Regions from separate parts of the Homo sapiens genome. Here region 1 is linked to region 2. Evidence: fine-mapped QTL for protein levels in blood plasma. Region 2 holds a variant in brackets. A gene starts in the other region. All regions are shown on their forward strands.

The links. PIP is the chance, under the fine-mapping model, that this variant and not a neighbour inherited with it causes the effect. Protein levels are from antibody-based Olink assays in UK Biobank. Linkage for the fine-mapping came from a reference panel and not from the study's own genotypes, which makes the PIPs less certain.
Region 1: it holds the start of FGFR4, and the variant in region 2 is fine-mapped to the plasma level of the FGFR4 protein (UK Biobank, PIP 0.99).

The regions. Positions count from the first base shown.
Region 1 is chr5:177,082,210-177,090,499 of GRCh38, forward strand. It overlaps FGFR4 (fibroblast growth factor receptor 4), which reads left to right and starts at 4,706. Exons shown (of 18, transcript NM_213647.3): 1 at 4,706-4,868; 2 at 7,341-7,484; 3 at 8,181-8,290. The coding sequence starts at 7,394. RefSeq lists silencers at 4,317-4,366, 4,617-5,076, a promoter at 4,587-4,806 and an enhancer at 4,772-5,222.
Region 2 is chr4:39,423,966-39,432,292 of GRCh38, forward strand. The region is part of intron 1 of KLB (klotho beta); the gene reads left to right. Among named protein-coding and RNA genes, the nearest start is that of MIR5591, 16 kb to the left of the region's middle. The variant C/T (reference allele first, on the strand shown) is at 4,289.

The DNA.
Region 1 (8,290 bases), not on the chromosome of region 2:
AAACCCCTGCCTGGGCCTGGTGTCTCCTCAGGACTGCTGGCTAAAAGGTCAAGGAGTGCAGTGCTCAGTCCCAGCCCCCACACCTCCCTCCCCAACACACTCACCTTCAGGTGAATCTGCACCTTCCCGGGCCACAGTTAAGGATGGAGACAGAAAGCATCTGATGCAGTAGCATCAATGATCCCACTCTGGAGAGTTATCCCGAGCTCTCCATCTTTGCCCCAGAAGACAGGGGTTCGAGTTCTGCAATTCACTTGCTAGATGACCTCAAATAAGTAATTCCATCTCCCTGAGCTTGTTTCTTCACCTACAAATCAGAGCTAAGGATTCCTATGCCATTTGGCTTGGTGGAAGAATTAAAGGATATAACCCATGTACAACACCCAGCATGATGCCTGGCATGTAACGGGAGCTGAAGAGTCACGAGCTCAGGAACAGGAACACGTTCATTTCCCCCAACACTCCTAGGAAGAAAGAAGCTGGAGCAGCCGGGAGCCGTTGCTCACGCCTGTAATGCCAGCACTTTGGGAGGCCGAGACGGGTGGATCACCTGAGGTCAGGAGATCGAGACCAGCCTGGCCAACATGGTGAAACCCCGTCTCTACAAAAATACAAAAATTAGCTGGGTGTGGTGGCAGGCGCCTGTAGTCCCGGCTACTAGGAAGGCTGAGGCAGGAGAGGCAGGAGAATTGCTTGAGCCTGGGAGGCGGAGGTTGCAGTGAGCCAAGATCACGCCACTGCACTCCAGCCTGGGCAATAGAGCGAGGCTCCATCTCCACAAAAAAAAAAAAAAAAAAAGGAAGAAGAGGAAGCTGGAGCATGACGGCTTTCTGGGTGGGGAAACTGAGGCAGAGGCAGGTTAACAGCAGGATCTTAGGGTGACAGGCTCTTGCCTCTGCTAAGCGAGAGAGAGAGAGAGAGAGAGTGTGTGTGTGTGTGTGTGTGTGTGTCTGAATGTATTTTTTTTTTTTTTTGAGACAGGGTCTTGCTCTGTTTCCCAGGCTAGAGTGCAGTGCGTGATCTTGGTTCAATGCAACATCTGCCTCCCAGGTTCAAGTGATTCTCCTGCCTCAGCCACCCCAGTAGCTGGGATTACAAGCGTGTGCCACCATGCCTGGCCAATTTTTGTATTTTTAGTAGAGATGGGGTTTTACCATGTTGGCCAGGGTGGTCTCGAACTCCTGACCTCAAGTGATCCGCCCACCTCAGACTCCCAAAGTGCTGGGATTACAGGAGTGAGCCACTGTGCCCAGTCGTGTCTGAATGTCTTTGAGAAAGAGACTGCAAATGTGACTGGTGAAAGATTGCGTGTCAGCAAGAGAGTGAGACAGTGTGAAAGGCTTAGGTGCTCTCCCTGACTGGCTCAGCTTATCTCCCAGGCTGTAACTGATTACTTATCTGTCTGTCCCCACTACAATGTCAGCAGCCCCTTGAAGGGTAGAAGTAGGGTCCAGGCCAGGTGAGGTGGCTCACATCTGTAATCCCAGCATTTGAGGAGGCTGACATGGGCAGATAACTTGAGGTCAGGAGTTTGAGACTAGCCTGGTCAATATGGTGAAACCTTGTCTCTACTAAAAATATAAAAATTAGCCAGGTGTAGTAGTGCACATTTGTAATCCCAGCTACTCAGGAGCCTGAGGCAGGAGAATCACTTGAACCCAGGAGGCAGAGCTTGCAGTGAACTAAGATCACACCACTGCACTCCAGCCTGGACAACAGAGCAAGACACTGTCTCCCAAAGAAAAGAAAAGAAAAAGAGTCCAATTCGGGGCTTTATCCCCAGGATTTAAAACAGTGGATGCCACATAATGAACCTTCAATAAATAATCATTCAGATGAATGAGTGAATGAGTGAATGACTTTGTGAGGGAGCATCAGCCTCTGTGGAGGGTCAGTGTGAAAGGTTATGAGTGCGGGGAGAGGAGGCAGACAAGGGATATGGGGAACATATCCTAGGGACATCAGAGGGTTGCAAATCTGAGGGATTTGCGCATCTCAGGAGACAAGGAGGTTGCAAGACCTGAGCTATGAAAACTTTTAGTTTGTCTTTGGCTCTGGTAAACTCAGGAAATGCCCGGGAAGGTGAATGAAAGCCATGTGGGGTCCAGCTCCAGCTGGCGGCTCACCCTGTCTCCCCCCACAACCACATTCACAAGGGGAGCCAGCAGAGGGCCAGAGGCAGGGAGCTGAACCCCTCCAGCAGTCCGGGAGGTCTGGCAAGGTACCCTCTGGGCAGGCAGCTCCCAGGGCCAGGAGCCTCATCTGTCCTGGGAGCTCCAGCAAGGCAGGACTCTAGAGAAGGGAACCAGGACAAATTGTTTTTAAAAGATAACCAATTAAAAAAAAATTTATAATATACATATATATGTGTGGGTGTGTCTGTGTGTATGTATATACACACAGACACACAGACACACACAGACACACACACACACACACACACACACATATATATATATATATATATTTTTTTTTTTTTTTGGAGACAAAGTCTCACTCTGTCACCCAGTCTGGAGTGCAATGGCACGATCTCGGCTCACTGCAACCTCCACCTCCCGGGTTCAAGCAATTCTCTGCCTCAGCCTCCCTAGTAGCTGAGATTACAGGCACATGCCACCATGCCTGGCTAATTTTTTTGTATTTTTAGTAGAGCTGGGGTTTCACCATCTTGCCAGGTTGGTCTTGAACTCCTGACCTCGTGATCCACCCACCTAAGCCTCCCAAAGTGCTGAGATTACAGGCGTGAGCCACCGTGCCCAGCCTAATATATATTTTTAATAGAGACGAGATCTCACTATGTTGCCCAGGCTGGCCTCGAACTCCTGAGTTCAAGCGATCCTCCCGATTCAGCCTCCCACAGTGCTGGGATTATAGGCATGAGCCACCATGCCTGGCCTCAATTATTTTCTGATTTATCTTTGGGAGGAGACCATTCTTTCGCTTAAGAAGAAAAAGAAAAAAACAATTTTAAGTCTCTTTAATGGGCCTTACAGTTATGCAAAGATATGCCACTATCCCTTTGGGAGTGAGGGTGGAAAGAACTAGACTTGCCTGCGTAACAATGAGAAAGGAAGTTGCTTCTTAAGACAGGGTCTACACTAGCTAGAGGGGACAACCAGGACCTGAGCCTCAGACAGGGTCTCGCTCCATAGCCTGTTGCCCAGGCTACAGTGCAGTGGAGCGATCACGGCTCACTGCTGCCTCGACTTCCTGGGCTCAAGCAATCCTCTGGCCTCAGCCTCCCAAGTAGCTGGGACCACAGGTGCACCCAGCCCATTTCCCTTCCTCTCAAGGTGCCTTAAGAGAAGGAGAAGGCTTGAGATTCAGGTGAGGGATGGGCAGAGATCAGAGGCTGCCTGGCCTCCTGGTTTGGCCACAGTCTAGATGCTCAGGAGAGAAGTGCTTACAGGTGAGGCAAACATGAGCCAGGTGGGCACGGAGCTATCTGGGAGCACCTACTGTATGCCAGACACTTGAACTCTAATGGTGAGGTCTGAGGACACAGTTCCTCTACTGAAAAATAGAGACAGGGCAACTATGTTGCCAGGGCTGGCCTCACACTCCTGAATTCAAGCTGTCCTCCTACCTCAGTCTCCTAGTAACTAGAACTACAGGCACCCGTCATTGTGCCCGGCCATTCCACAGCTATTTACATAATTAACTGTTCAGTTACAATTCTGGCAAGCGTGCTGAAGAAATAACAGGTCCTAAATAATTACAGCTAGTATTACAAAGCAAGCGCTGCATGCCAGGCTTACACATACTGCTAACATGTCTACTTTTTGCAACAACCTCTTGTGGGTGAGACTATCATTTGCCTGTTTTACTGAAAGGACAGTGAAGACTGAGGCCTTGTGTGATGGTGCTGAGAGCTGGGCCTATGACGTCCAGCCCTGTAGTCTGTGCTCTGAACCACTTCACCCTGTTTCTTTCTCCATCCTCACAGTAGAGACGTCATCTAAGAGGAGCTTGCAAGTCCAGAGGGCTTCCTGAAGGAAGTGAGCTGAGAATAATATGAAATTAACCAGACCAAGGGCCATTCCAGGAAGAGAGAATGGTACGTGAAACTGCCCAGGAGTAGCAGGGTGGGAGCCAGGAGGCGTGGGTCATGGCAATCTATGTATAAAGAGCTATGGGAATCTATAGGAAAATTTAAGGGAGTGGCTGACACAGTCAGATTTGTGTTGTAAGTATCACTCCGCAGGTTGCGCAGGGAACAAATGAGGGAGCAGAAGGAAGGGGTTCTCCTATCCGCTGCACGGCACTGCGCAGAAGACAGGGGAGCCAGGCATTCCCTGAAGGGTGAAAAGCAAGGAGTAGAGCTGGGTAGTAGACTAGAATTTAGGAGCCTGGCCTGGGGCCTGGGTGGGGCGAAAGAGGCGGAGCCTGAATGGGGTGTGTATAGGGGGGTTGCGTGTAGGGGTGTGTGTATAGGCTGGGGCGGGGTCCCGGGAGTGGGCTGACTGGGTCGGGGGCGGGGCTCTCCAGGTGGGCGGGGATCTTGGCCACCCCTGGCCACACCTCTCTCCGGCTCGAGCTGGTCTAGGCGGGGCGGGCCCGAGGGGGTGTGGCAGGAGGTGGGCGGGCCCGGGTGGGGGGGGGGGGGGCGTGGAAGGAGGGGCGGGCCCGAGCAGGAGGGGGCGGGCCCGAGGGGCGGGGTGGGACAGGAGGTGGGCCGCTCGCGGCCACGCCGCCGTCGCGGGTACATTCCTCGCTCCCGGCCGAGGAGCGCTCGGGCTGTCTGCGGACCCTGCCGCGTGCAGGGGTCGCGGCCGGCTGGAGCTGGGAGTGAGGCGGCGGAGGAGCCAGGTGAGGAGGAGCCAGGTGAGCAGGACCCTGTGCTGGGCGCGGAGTCACGCAGGCTCGAGGTGAGCCGGAACCCTTGTGGGCCCGGGCTGCGCTCCCAGCCGCCAGGGGGCGAGAGGCGGCGGGGCTACGGGGACTGCCCCTCCCGGCGCAGGGGACCTGGGCGTCCGCCGGGCGGCAGGGGGTGGAGGGGGCGGTAAATCAGTAACCCGCAGTGCACACAGGGCCTTTTGTCCCGCTCCGTCCAAAGAGCACCCCGGCCGCGGAGCTGGTTACTCATTGCCCACCGAGGCGGGGGCAGGCTGGCCCTGTGCAGCTACCCTCGGGACCCATTGATTCGCACCTCCCCCCAGGCTGGCCCGGCAAGGGTGGGGGAGGACAAGCGCGCTTGTCCCTGCGGCTGTCTTCGCGCCGGCGGCAGAGATGAGGGACCTGAGGCCCCGAAAAGTTCAGTCACTTAGTGCCCGGGGGCCTCCAGCGCGAGTGCGGGAGGCTGAAGGAGAACCCAGGACTGTCTGATGCCTAAGGCAGGCCCTCCATTCCCACGTGGGGGGTGGTCGGTCAGCGGTCAGCAGCCATGGGTGACTCGACTAAGGACTCTGATATCAGGGCAGCCTGGGGTAGGAATAAACTCCCCGGGCCTCCCCACCCACTCCCAGCCCAAGCTGTGTACCCAAAGAGCTGCCCTCCCTGCCAAGCCGAGCTTGGTAGGGAGTTTTACCAAGGAGGATCCGACTGGATTCGAGAGTTGAGGTGGGCCAGAGACAGCAGTATCTGAGTCAGGTAGAGAAGAGCAATGAGGGGCACAGAGGGATGGGCAAGAGAGCACATGTGCCCAGTTTTGAAAGCCAATGGCTTCAGCGCTCCTGAAGGGGCAGACGGTGTGACCAAAGAGATAGGCAGCGGCAGAGAGGGAGCCCTAGGATGTTGAGCTGGATCCTGCTGGGCACAGGTAGCCATTAAGGGCTTGCAAGCTGGGGGGCATGACATGGCAGACTTGCAGGTTTTTTTGTTTGTTTTTTTATTTTATTTTATTTTTTTATTTTGTTTTTTTTGAGACGGAGTCTCACTCTGTCGCCCAGGCTGGAGTGCAGTGGCGCGATCTCGGCTCACTGCAAGCTCCGCCTCCCGGGTTCGCGCCATTCTCCTGCCTCAGCCTCCCGAGTAGCTGGGACTACAGGCGCCCGCCACCGCGCCCGGCTAATTTTTTGTATTTTTAGTAGAGACGGGGTTTCACCGTGTTAGCCAGGATGTTCTCGATCTCCTGACCTCGTGATCCGCCCACCTCGGCCTCCCAAAGTGCTGGGATTACAGGTGTGAACCATCGCGCCCAGCCGACTTGTAGTTTTTTAAAACTCTGCTGGAAGATGAAGGTTGAAGAGCCGAGGGAGAGGATGTTTCCAGAGGCCCATGCAAGAGATGGCCATGACCTGCCTTGAGAAGGGGCAGGGGAAGCCAGATGGACTGGAAGTGGAGTGGCAGTGACCAAGGAGGAGGAGGTGTGATAGGCTTCCCACGCAGGGTAGATCCAGAGACACCAGTGCCACCCATAGGCCCCTAGGACTGCAGTGGTCACCGATTCCTTTGTCCCAGCTGAGACTCAGTTCTGAGTGTTCTATTTTGGGGAACAGAGGCGTCCTTGGTAGCATTTGGAAGAGGATAGCCAGCTGGGGTGTGTGTACATCACAGCCTGACAGTAACAGCATCCGAACCAGAGGTGACTGGCTAAGGGCAGACCCAGGGCAACAGGTTAACCGTTCTAGGGCCGGGCACAGGGAGGAGAACATTCCAACACTCTGCGTGCCGACGCACGTTCTCTCTTTTATCCTCAAAACAGTCCTATGAGGATAGTAAGCCAGAGAGAGACAGAGACAAGGAATTACAAGTTGGTGAGAGTCAGGATTTGAACTTGGCTCTGGCAGATGGAAAATTAGGGTCTGTATTCTTTACAAAACCGTGTGTGCCTCAGATGGAGTTGGTGCATAACAAGCAGAGGTATCCAGGGTCGCGGTCCTGCTTGCCACGGAAGGGGCCGCCTTGTCAGTTGTGACCACCCAGCCCTGGAAATGTCAGTAATGCTGTAAGGAGTGGGGATCGGATCAGATGCCATCCAGATGCTGAAGTTTGACCTTGTGTCATTTTTCACTTTCTTTTTTGGCTCTTCTGCAATCAATTCATTTATTTAGCAAAAAAGAAATTATGTGTGCCGAGAGCATGCAGAAGATATGTCTCCGTTCTCTGCTTCCCTCCAAAAAAGAATCCCAAAACTGCTTTCTGTGAACGTGTGCCAGGGTCCCAGCAGGACTCAGGGAGAGCAGGAAGCCCAGCCCAGACCCCTTGCACAACCTACCGTGGGGAGGCCTTAGGCTCTGGCTACTACAGAGCTGGTTCCAGTCTGCACTGCCACAGCCTGGCCAGGGACTTGGACACATCTGCTGGCCACTTCCTGTCTCAGTTTCCTTATCTGCAAAATAAGGGAAAAGCCCCCACAAAGGTGCACGTGTAGCAGGAGCTCTTTTCCCTCCCTATTTTAGGAAGGCAGTTGGTGGGAAGTCCAGCTTGGGTCCCTGAGAGCTGTGAGAAGGAGATGCGGCTGCTGCTGGCCCTGTTGGGGGTCCTGCTGAGTGTGCCTGGGCCTCCAGTCTTGTCCCTGGAGGCCTCTGAGGAAGTGGAGCTTGGTATGGCTTCTGAGGTGGGAGAGGGTGGCAGGGGTGGGAAGAGTGGGCACCAGGAGGGGGCTGCTGGGCTGAGCAAAGCTGGAAAGGATCCTTGCCCAGGCCCTGAGAAGGTGGCGGCAGGGCAGGGCTCAACCACTGAGACTCAGTCAGTGCCTGGCTTCCAGCAAGCATTCATCTATCACTGTGTCTGCGAGAGAGGACTGGCCTTGCAGGGCGCAGGGCCCTAAGCTGGGCTGCAGAGCTGGTGGTGAGCTCCTTACCTGGGTGTGTGTGCGTGTGTGTGTGTGTTCTGTGCACTGGGTGTGTGACCTAGGAGGTCCAGGCAGCATGTGTGGTATAAGCATTATGAGGGTGATATGCCCCGGTGCAGCATGACCCTGTATGTGGCACCAACAGCATGTGCCTTGTGTGTGTGTGTGTCCGTATGTGTGTGTGTGTATGCGTGTGTGTGTGTGTGTGTGTCTTGGCCACTGTCGTGTGCACTAAATGCTGTGTGTGTGACATGCCCCAAGAGTGTGGCATTTGCCCTGGGTGTGGCATCCGCAGCATGTGGCTGTGTGGGTGTCAAGGAGTGGTGGCTCCTTCAGCATGCGTTGCAAAGTGCTTGTGCCCTGCATGTGCGGTGTGTTCTTTGTACACAGGAGGCTGCCTCAGATGGGGCTGCGGGGTCTGCTGACCTCTGCCCTCTGCCCACAGAGCCCTGCCTGGCTCCCAGCCTGGAGCAGCAAGAGCAGGAGCTGACAGTAGCCCTTGGGCAGCCTGTGCGTCTGTGCTGTGGGCGGGCTGAGCGTGGTGGCCACTGGTAC
Region 2 (8,327 bases):
ACCAGCCTGGGCAACATAGTGAGACCCTGTCTCTGCAAAAATAAATAAATGAGCATTTATTTAGAATGAGAAAAACATCACAATAAATTATGATAGTTATTTTTTGTTTTTGTTTTTGTTTTTGAGACAGGTCTCATTCTGTCACCCAAGCTGGAGTGCAGTGGCACAATCACGGCTCATTGCAGCCTCAACCTCCGTGGGCTCAGGTGATCCTCCCACCTCAGCCTCCTGAGTAGCTGGGATTACAGGTGCACACCACCATACCCAGCTAATTTTTGTATTTTTTGTAGAGACGAGGTTTTGCCATGTTGGCCAGGCCGGTCTCGAACTCCTGGGCTCAAGTGATCCACCAGCCTTGGCTTCCCAAAGTGCTGGGATTACAGACATGAGCTACCACGCCTAGCACAATAAATTACTATAGCCTTAGAGTCCTTTTTTTCTAAAGTCTCTTTAGGGAATTTGCAAGAACTGCTCACCTAGAAATGCTTCCAATTGCAACTAGGCTCCCTGACCCACCCAGGGCATTTCTAGGGACGTAGGTAAGCAAGGCGACCTGAAGCTAAAGCTTCATTAGGCTCACAGTAAATCTGGCTTTGCTGCAGGCTCTACACGTGATGGCCCTTGTTTTTATTATTATAATAATTTGTAATCTCCATGGTGGTTTCTTTTTCTTTTTCTTTTTTTGAGATGGAGCTTCGCACTGTTGCCCAGGCTGGAGTGCAGTGGCGCTATCTCGGCTCACTGCAACCTTTGCATCCCGGGTTCAAGCGATTCTGTTTCAGCCTCCCTGGTAGCTGGGACTACAGGCATGTGCCACCACGCCTGGCTAATTTTTGTATTTTTAATAGAGATGGGGTTTCACCATGTTGGCCAGGCTGTTCTCGAATTCCTGACCTCAAGTGATCCACCCGCCTCGGCCTCCCAAAGTGCTGGGATTACAGGTGAGAGCTACTGTGCCAGGCCTCCATGGTGGTTTATATGTTGACTATCTGTATTCCCAAATCCTGAGGAAAGGCTTCAAGTCACCAACCCAGACCATTTTAGCTTCAGTTATACCATGAGATATAGTCCTTTTGCATGAAAAAATTACTATCAGGATCACTAACAAAAAGCCTTAAATATCATTACACCCTCTACAAAGATGGCATGCAAATGCTCTCCTCCGGCAAAGAGAACTTCACTAAAGCACTAATTTACTAATGCTGATTTCTTCCAATTTCTAATAGAGGGAAACTAGATGCTTCATTTAATCAAATTATGAACTTTATTCTAGACTTTTTTCCTTTTGTGTTGCCAGGTATAGATTCTGGCTCAGCCACTAGTCTAATTTAGTAATATTATCATTGAAATCAGAATTCTTTAACAGGACATTTGTTTTAAAGGAACAAATATGCTAGAGTTTAGTTTTTACATTCCTTCAGGAAAATTCTGAGACAATACAAACTGAGAATAATCAATAATTTGTTAGAATAATTTTTTTTTAAGACAAGGCCTTGCTCTGTCACCCGGGCTGGAGTGCAGTGGTGTGAACACAGCTCAAACACAGCTCACTACAGCCTTGACCTGCTGGACTCAAGTGATCCTCCCACCTCAGCCTCTTGAGTAGCTGGGACTACAGGCACATGCCACCATGCCCAGCTAATTTTTGTATTTTTTGTAGAGATAGAGTTTTGCCATGTTGCCCAGGCTGGTCTTAAAACTCCTGGGCTCAAGCAATCCATCCTCCTTGGCCTCCCAAAGTGCCAGGATTATAGGCATGAGCCACCACATCTGGCCAGAAAATTTGAAAATATAATGATTGAAAAAGAATAGGGAGAAATTCATTAAAATGTAATACTGAGTTATTTCAACTATAGAAAACATGAATTTGGGCCAGGCGCAGTGGCTCATGCCTGTAATGTCAGCACTTTGGGAGGCTGAGGCGGGCGGATTACTTGAGGTCAGGAGCTTGAGACCAGCCTGGCCAACATGGTGAAACCCCGTCTCTACTAAAAACACAAAAACTAGGCCGGGCGCTTGGCTCACACCTGTAATCCCAGCACTTTGGGAGGCCGAGGCGGGCGGATCACTATGTCAGGAGATTGAGACCATCCTGGCTAACATGGTGAAACACCATCTCTAATAAAAATACAGAAAATCAGCCAGGCGTGGTGTCGGGCACCTGTAGTCCCAGCTACTCAGGAGGCTGAGGCAGGAGAATGGCGTGAACCTGGGAGGTGGATGTTGCAGTGAGCCGAGATTGTGACACTGGTCTCCAGCCTAGGCGACAGAGCGAGACTCCATCTCAAAAAAAAAAAAAATTAGCCAGGTGTGGTGGTGCATGCTTATAGTCCCAGCTACTCAGGAGGCTGAGGCAGAAGAATGGCTTGAACCAGGGAGAAGAAGGTTGCAATGAACTGAGATCGCGCCACTACACTCCAGCTGGGTGACAGAGCAAGACTCCTATCTAAAAAAAAAAAAAAAAAAAAAAAAAGGGCCATGAAATTTGGACCATTAAAAATAGGATGGTGAATATTTTCTTTATGAAAGGCTGTAACTTTTGTTAATATTTAAATTCTTTCCTAAGAAAAGCAAAGGTAAAATAATGATTGCAAAAGAGTTTCAAGATTGCCAAAAACTTTTTAAAAAAATAGTCACATAATATAATTAAAGAAATAATTGTCACATAATTTTATAATTTTTTAGCAATGAACAGTAAAGGTCACATACCTTAAGCATCCAATAATTTTTTTTTTTTTAAGAGACGGGGTCTTGCTCTGTTGCCTGGGCTGGAGTGCAGTGGCATGATCATAGCTCATTGCAGCCTTGACCTCCTGTGCTCAAGCAATCCTTCCATCTAATCCTCCTGAGTAGCTGGGACTACAGGCATGCCACCATGCCTGGCTCATTTTCTTAATTTTTAGTAGAGAAAGAGAGTCTCACTATATTGCCCAGTCTGGTCTTGAACTCCTGGCCTCAAGTGATCCTCCCACCTCAGCCTCCCAAAGTGCTGAGAGTACAGATGTGAGCCACAGCATCCAATAAATATTTGTAGACTGCAGCATGGATGAATGAATGAATGTTAAACAATCTGGAAGAGCAGCATTTGGTAATTAACATAAAAGTTGATAGTAGGCTGGCACAGAGACAGAGACTTAGGCTGGCGGATTGCTTGAGGCCAGGAGTTCGATACCAGCCTGAGCAACATAGTGAGAGGTTGTCTTTACAAAACAAACAAATTAAAAAATCAGCTTGAGGCCGGACGCGGTGGTTCATGCCTGTAATCCCAGCACTTTGGGAGGCCAAGGCAGGCAGATTGCTTGAGGTCAGGAGTTCAAGACCAGCCTGGCCAACAGGGTGAAACCCTGTCTCTACTAAAAATACAAAAATTAGCTGGGCGTGGTGGCAGGTACCTGTAGTCCCAGCTACTCAGGAGGCTGAGGCAGAAGAATCACTTTAACCCAGGAGGCAGAGGCTGCAGTGAGCCAAGACCGAGCCACTGCACTCCAGCCTGGGTGACAGAGGGAGACTCTGTCTCAAAAAAAAAAAAAAAAAAATCAACTTGATACCAAAATAGAGAAGGGCTAAGCAGATGAAAAGATGAATCAAATTGAAATTAATCCCAAAAGGACAACGAGTAAAACTCAGGAAGCTGCAAACAATAAATGAGGGCAAACATGTTCAGCCACGAGCCTTGGCAAGTAAAGGCTTGGGAGCTATTTGCAGAACACTCTTCACGTCCACACAGTCTCCATTACGATTTTCTAGACCAAGTTAAATTATTTTCAGCTTGCTCTTTCAAAGTACTTCAAATTTACGTTTGTGTCATTTTCACAGGGTCTTCACAGATATTATTGCCTCATTTGACGTTCACGAAAATTCTCTAGGGTGTTTATTTTTAGCTCAGTAGAATGAAGGGAAAAACAGGTCTTTGACAGTGAAATGATCTGTCCAAGATCGTAAAGCTGATGAGTCAGCAGAGCTAATACAAGAGCCCAGGTCTCCTGCTTTCAAGACCAATGTTATTTCCCGTATAGTACCAGGTAGATGAGTAGCACCTTTATATCATTCTCAAATGCCATTTATCCCCTAATAGAGCTGTCAATGTTTTATATCCCATGGTCACAGAACACTCACACCAGTGGACAAAATGTATGGAAAGCGATTTGGGAATATTTAAAACAATTTTAGAAATAGGTAGTCCAGGCCGGGTGGCTCACGCCTGTAACCCCAGCATTTTGAGAGGCCAAGGCAGGCGGATCACCTGAGGTCAGGAGTTCAAGACCAGCTTGGCCAACATGGTGAAACC[C/T]CGTCTCTACTAAAAATACAAAAAATTAGCTGGGTGTGGTGATGGGTGCCTGTAATCCCAGTTACTCAGGAGGCTGAGGCAGAAGAATCGCTTCAACCCAGGAGGTGGAGGTTGCAGTGAGCTGAGATCACACCATTGCACTCCAGCCTAGGCAACAAGAGTGAAACTACGTCTCAAAAAAAAAAAAAAGAATGAAAGAAAAGAAATAGGTAGTCCATTCCTGGCATTAATGAAAGGCAATGATTCAAATAAATTAAAGGTTATATGCCCAAAGTTAGCTATTGAAACATTTATGACAGGAAAAGAGAAAGAACAAAAGAACGAAGAAAAATAAATTTTTATCAAAAGACAGAGATAGCTAAGTAAATCATTATTATACTAAGATATTCTGAAAACCAAAAACAGCGTGGAAGATGTTTAAAGTGATTTTATTTCTTAAATTTTTATTTATTTATTAGTTTAATTATTTCAAGATGGAGTTTTGCTCTTGTTGCCCAGGCTGAAGCGCAGTGGCGTGATCTCGGCTCACTGCAACCTCTGCCTCCCAGGGTTCAAGCCATTCTCCTGCCTCAGCCTCCCGAGTAGCTGGGACTACAGGTGCCCGCCACCATGACCGGCTAATTTTTGTATTTTTAGTAGAGACAGGGTCCCACCATGTTGGCCAGGCTGGTCTCAAACTCCTGATCTCAGGTGATCCCACCCACCTCCACCTCCCAAAGTGCTGGGATTACAGGCATGAGCCATGGCACCCGGTCTTAAAGTGATTTTAGCTGGGAAATATGTTTGGAAAGCCTGGGTGGGAACACAGAAATATAAACCTATTTTGTTATGCTTGTGGAGTTTTTAAATAAACTTTCTTTAACCATTGTTATTTAATAGTCTATTAAATAGCTTAAACAACAGACACTTTTATAGTACACATGAACATATTTCAGCCAAAATGTGACCAAACTCATGCACAGATTTGGAAATGGAACTTTTGACAAATGACTGAGGGTTCCTTGAATACACTGGTGTGATGTGTTTGGCTTGCTCATCTGTCTTCAACCCATCTTTCCAACAGTGTCCTGTCATGTCTTCCTCTGGCTCCTAATCCCTTCTTCATCTATTTCTAAAGTTGTGCCTACTATCTTATTTGTTTCCTATCATCCACAGAATTTATCTGAGTCTGGACTTCCAGGGGCATCAAAAAATGCTGCCACATTAAACTGGAGGAGAGAACAGAATGAGATATTAGGTCCTGGTTGTCTCTCAATGACATTAGGGCCTGATAGCTGGCTCCAAAAGAAAAAGAAGCTGACTTTCCCTTTAAGCTACTGAATCTAAAGAACAAAGGTTGAAGCTCCCTTAAATCAATCATTACAGAGGTAGATGGCTTTGTACAAATTAGAGGGTGACCTTGGAAAAGTGTAGAATGGCTGTTGTGCAAGGTTGCAGGGCCCAGGTTGCACTCCCCTACTAACCTCATTTTAATTTTCCCAACAGATCTCCTTTATGAGTGCCCAACCAAAGAACACACATAGATGGATATGGCAAACTCACGATCTTGGAGCAAAATTTTTTACCTTGTTACTTGGCAAATAGGATCAAGTTATAACCAAAAGTACTGCACAGAGGACCTCCCCCACATTCTCTACATGAGAATGAAGAGGCTGTCTTCAGCCCAGAGCAAAGATAACCCTAGATACCTTGATAGCCTAGGCAAATAGCAGCAAAGGTGAAAGAGACACTGTGGAACGTGAAGGTCACCTTGACAACACATCCATATGTATATCCAGAAAACCTGCATGGAAAGCTACTGCAAAGATATGTCTTCTGAGCTCTACTGTTTCTCATTCAAAGGCTGATGTAACCAAGATTTTTATCACGACTTAGGTCATCTTTCATATAATCACTGAAATTTAGTGTCTGCAAAAGCAAGACATTAAATTTGCAAAGCAACAAGTTTAAGGCTCACAATCCAGGCTACACGGGCTCAGTGCTTTCCAGTTTGCATAGAGAGGTGCACAATAGGCCTGAAGGGAGGTGCTGATCACTGGGTCTTCCATGAATGATAGCTCTAAGGCTACCAAGGGATTAAGTGACTGGTTAGAAAAAAACAAAGAATTCCCTCCTTTGAATCCTAGTAATTTATGACTGCTTTTGTTTCTAATTAGAAAAAAAAAAAAGCGGTTCTCAAGAATTTCTGTCGTGATTCTAGCCCCAGAAAAACCCGGAAAGAATAGCTGAAACCATTTAAGGTAGTGTCTGTCCCAGGCCCCTCTGATTCTTCCAGAAGTTGCAATCTCAGGTTGGAGACAAGGAAAGAGGCTACATTCTGAATACTTCTCTGAGAGGAAATTTTTTTTTTTTTTTTTTTTTTTTTGAGACAGAGTCTTGCTCTGTCACCCAGGCTGGAGTACAGCGACTCAATCTAGGCTCGCTGCAACCTCCGCCTCCTGGGTTCAAGTGATTCTCCTGGCTCAGGCTCCTGAGTAGCTGGGACTACAGGCGCATGCCACCAAGTCCAGCTAATTTTTATATTTTTTTTTAGTAGAGAAGAGGTTTCACCATGTTGGCCAAGCTGGTCTCAAATCAAACTCCTGACCTCAAGTGATCTGCCCACCTCAGCCTCCCAAAGAGCTGAGATTACAGGCATGAGCCACTGCTCCCGGTTGGAAAGTTTTTTTTTTTTTTCCCCTGAGTCAGGGTGTCACTCTGTCCCCCAGGCTGGAGTGCAGAGGTGCCATCTCAGCTCACTGCAACCTCCGCCTCCCTGGCTCAAATGATCTTCCAACCTCAGCTTCCTGAGTAGCTGGGACTACAGGCACGTATCACCATGCCTGGCTAATTTTTGTATTTTTTTTTTTTTTTTTTTGTAGATACGGGGTTTCGTCATGTTGACCAGGCTGATCTCGAATTCCTGAGCTCAAGCAATCTTCCCACCTTGGCCTCCCAAAGTGTTGGGATTACAGATGTGAGCCACCCACCCAACCACCAACCAAGAGGAAAGCATTCCTTTTTTTTTGAAACGGAGTTTCACTCTTGTTGCCTAGGCTGGAGTGCAATGTCACGATCTCAGCTCACTGCATCACTGCAACCTCCGCCTCCTGGGTTCAAGCGATTCTCCTGCCTCGGCCTTCCGAGTAGCTGGGATTATAGGCATGCGCCACCACGACCGGCTAATTTTGTATTTTTAGTAGAGATGGGGTTTCTCCATGTTGATCAGGCTGGTCTGGAACTCCCGACCTCAGGTGATCCGCCCGCCTCGGCCTCCCAAAGTGCTGGGATTACAGGCATGAGCCACCATGCCCGGCCCGAGGAAAGCATTCTTAAGGATCCTTGGGAATACCTGGGTGCTAAATGGTACCAGAATCTTCCAATGAAAATTGAGTAAGGACAAGTGGACAGAGGTATACCTCAAGGAATTTATTTCTCCAGAAAATCTTCCAGGAATTTATTTAAATTGTTTTTTCTTGCATAAAGCAGGATGGCACGTTTCAGAATCCTCACCCCTTACCTCAATGCCTACTTTCCCCATCTAACAGGGTTTATGGAATATTTTCAGGGTCCACAGGATCGATCTGGTTTGAATCCATTGTTCATATCTGCTTGTCTTTGACCTACGTAAAAGGCAGTTTCAGATAGTTTATTCTGATATAAAATATCTCCAGTGAGCAAAAGAAAAGCTAAGGAACAAAACTGAAAGCAGGCTCTGTGTGCTAAAGATAATGAGTCTGTGCATTTGTTTTAGAAACACACAAATAGTGGGGGCCGGGTGCAGTGGCTCACGCCTGTAATCCCAGCACTTTGGGAGGCCGAGGTGTGTGGATCACCTGAGGTCAGGAGTTCGAGACCAGCCTGGCCAACATGGTGGAGCCCCACCTCTACTAAAAATACAAAAATTAACTGGGCATGGTGGTGCTCACCTGTAGTCTCAACTACTAGGGAGGCTGAGGTGGGACGATCACTTGAACCTGAGAGGTGGAGGTTGAGTGAGCTGAGATGGCACCACTGCATTCCAGCCTGGGTGACAGAGCAAGACTCTGTCTCAAAGAAA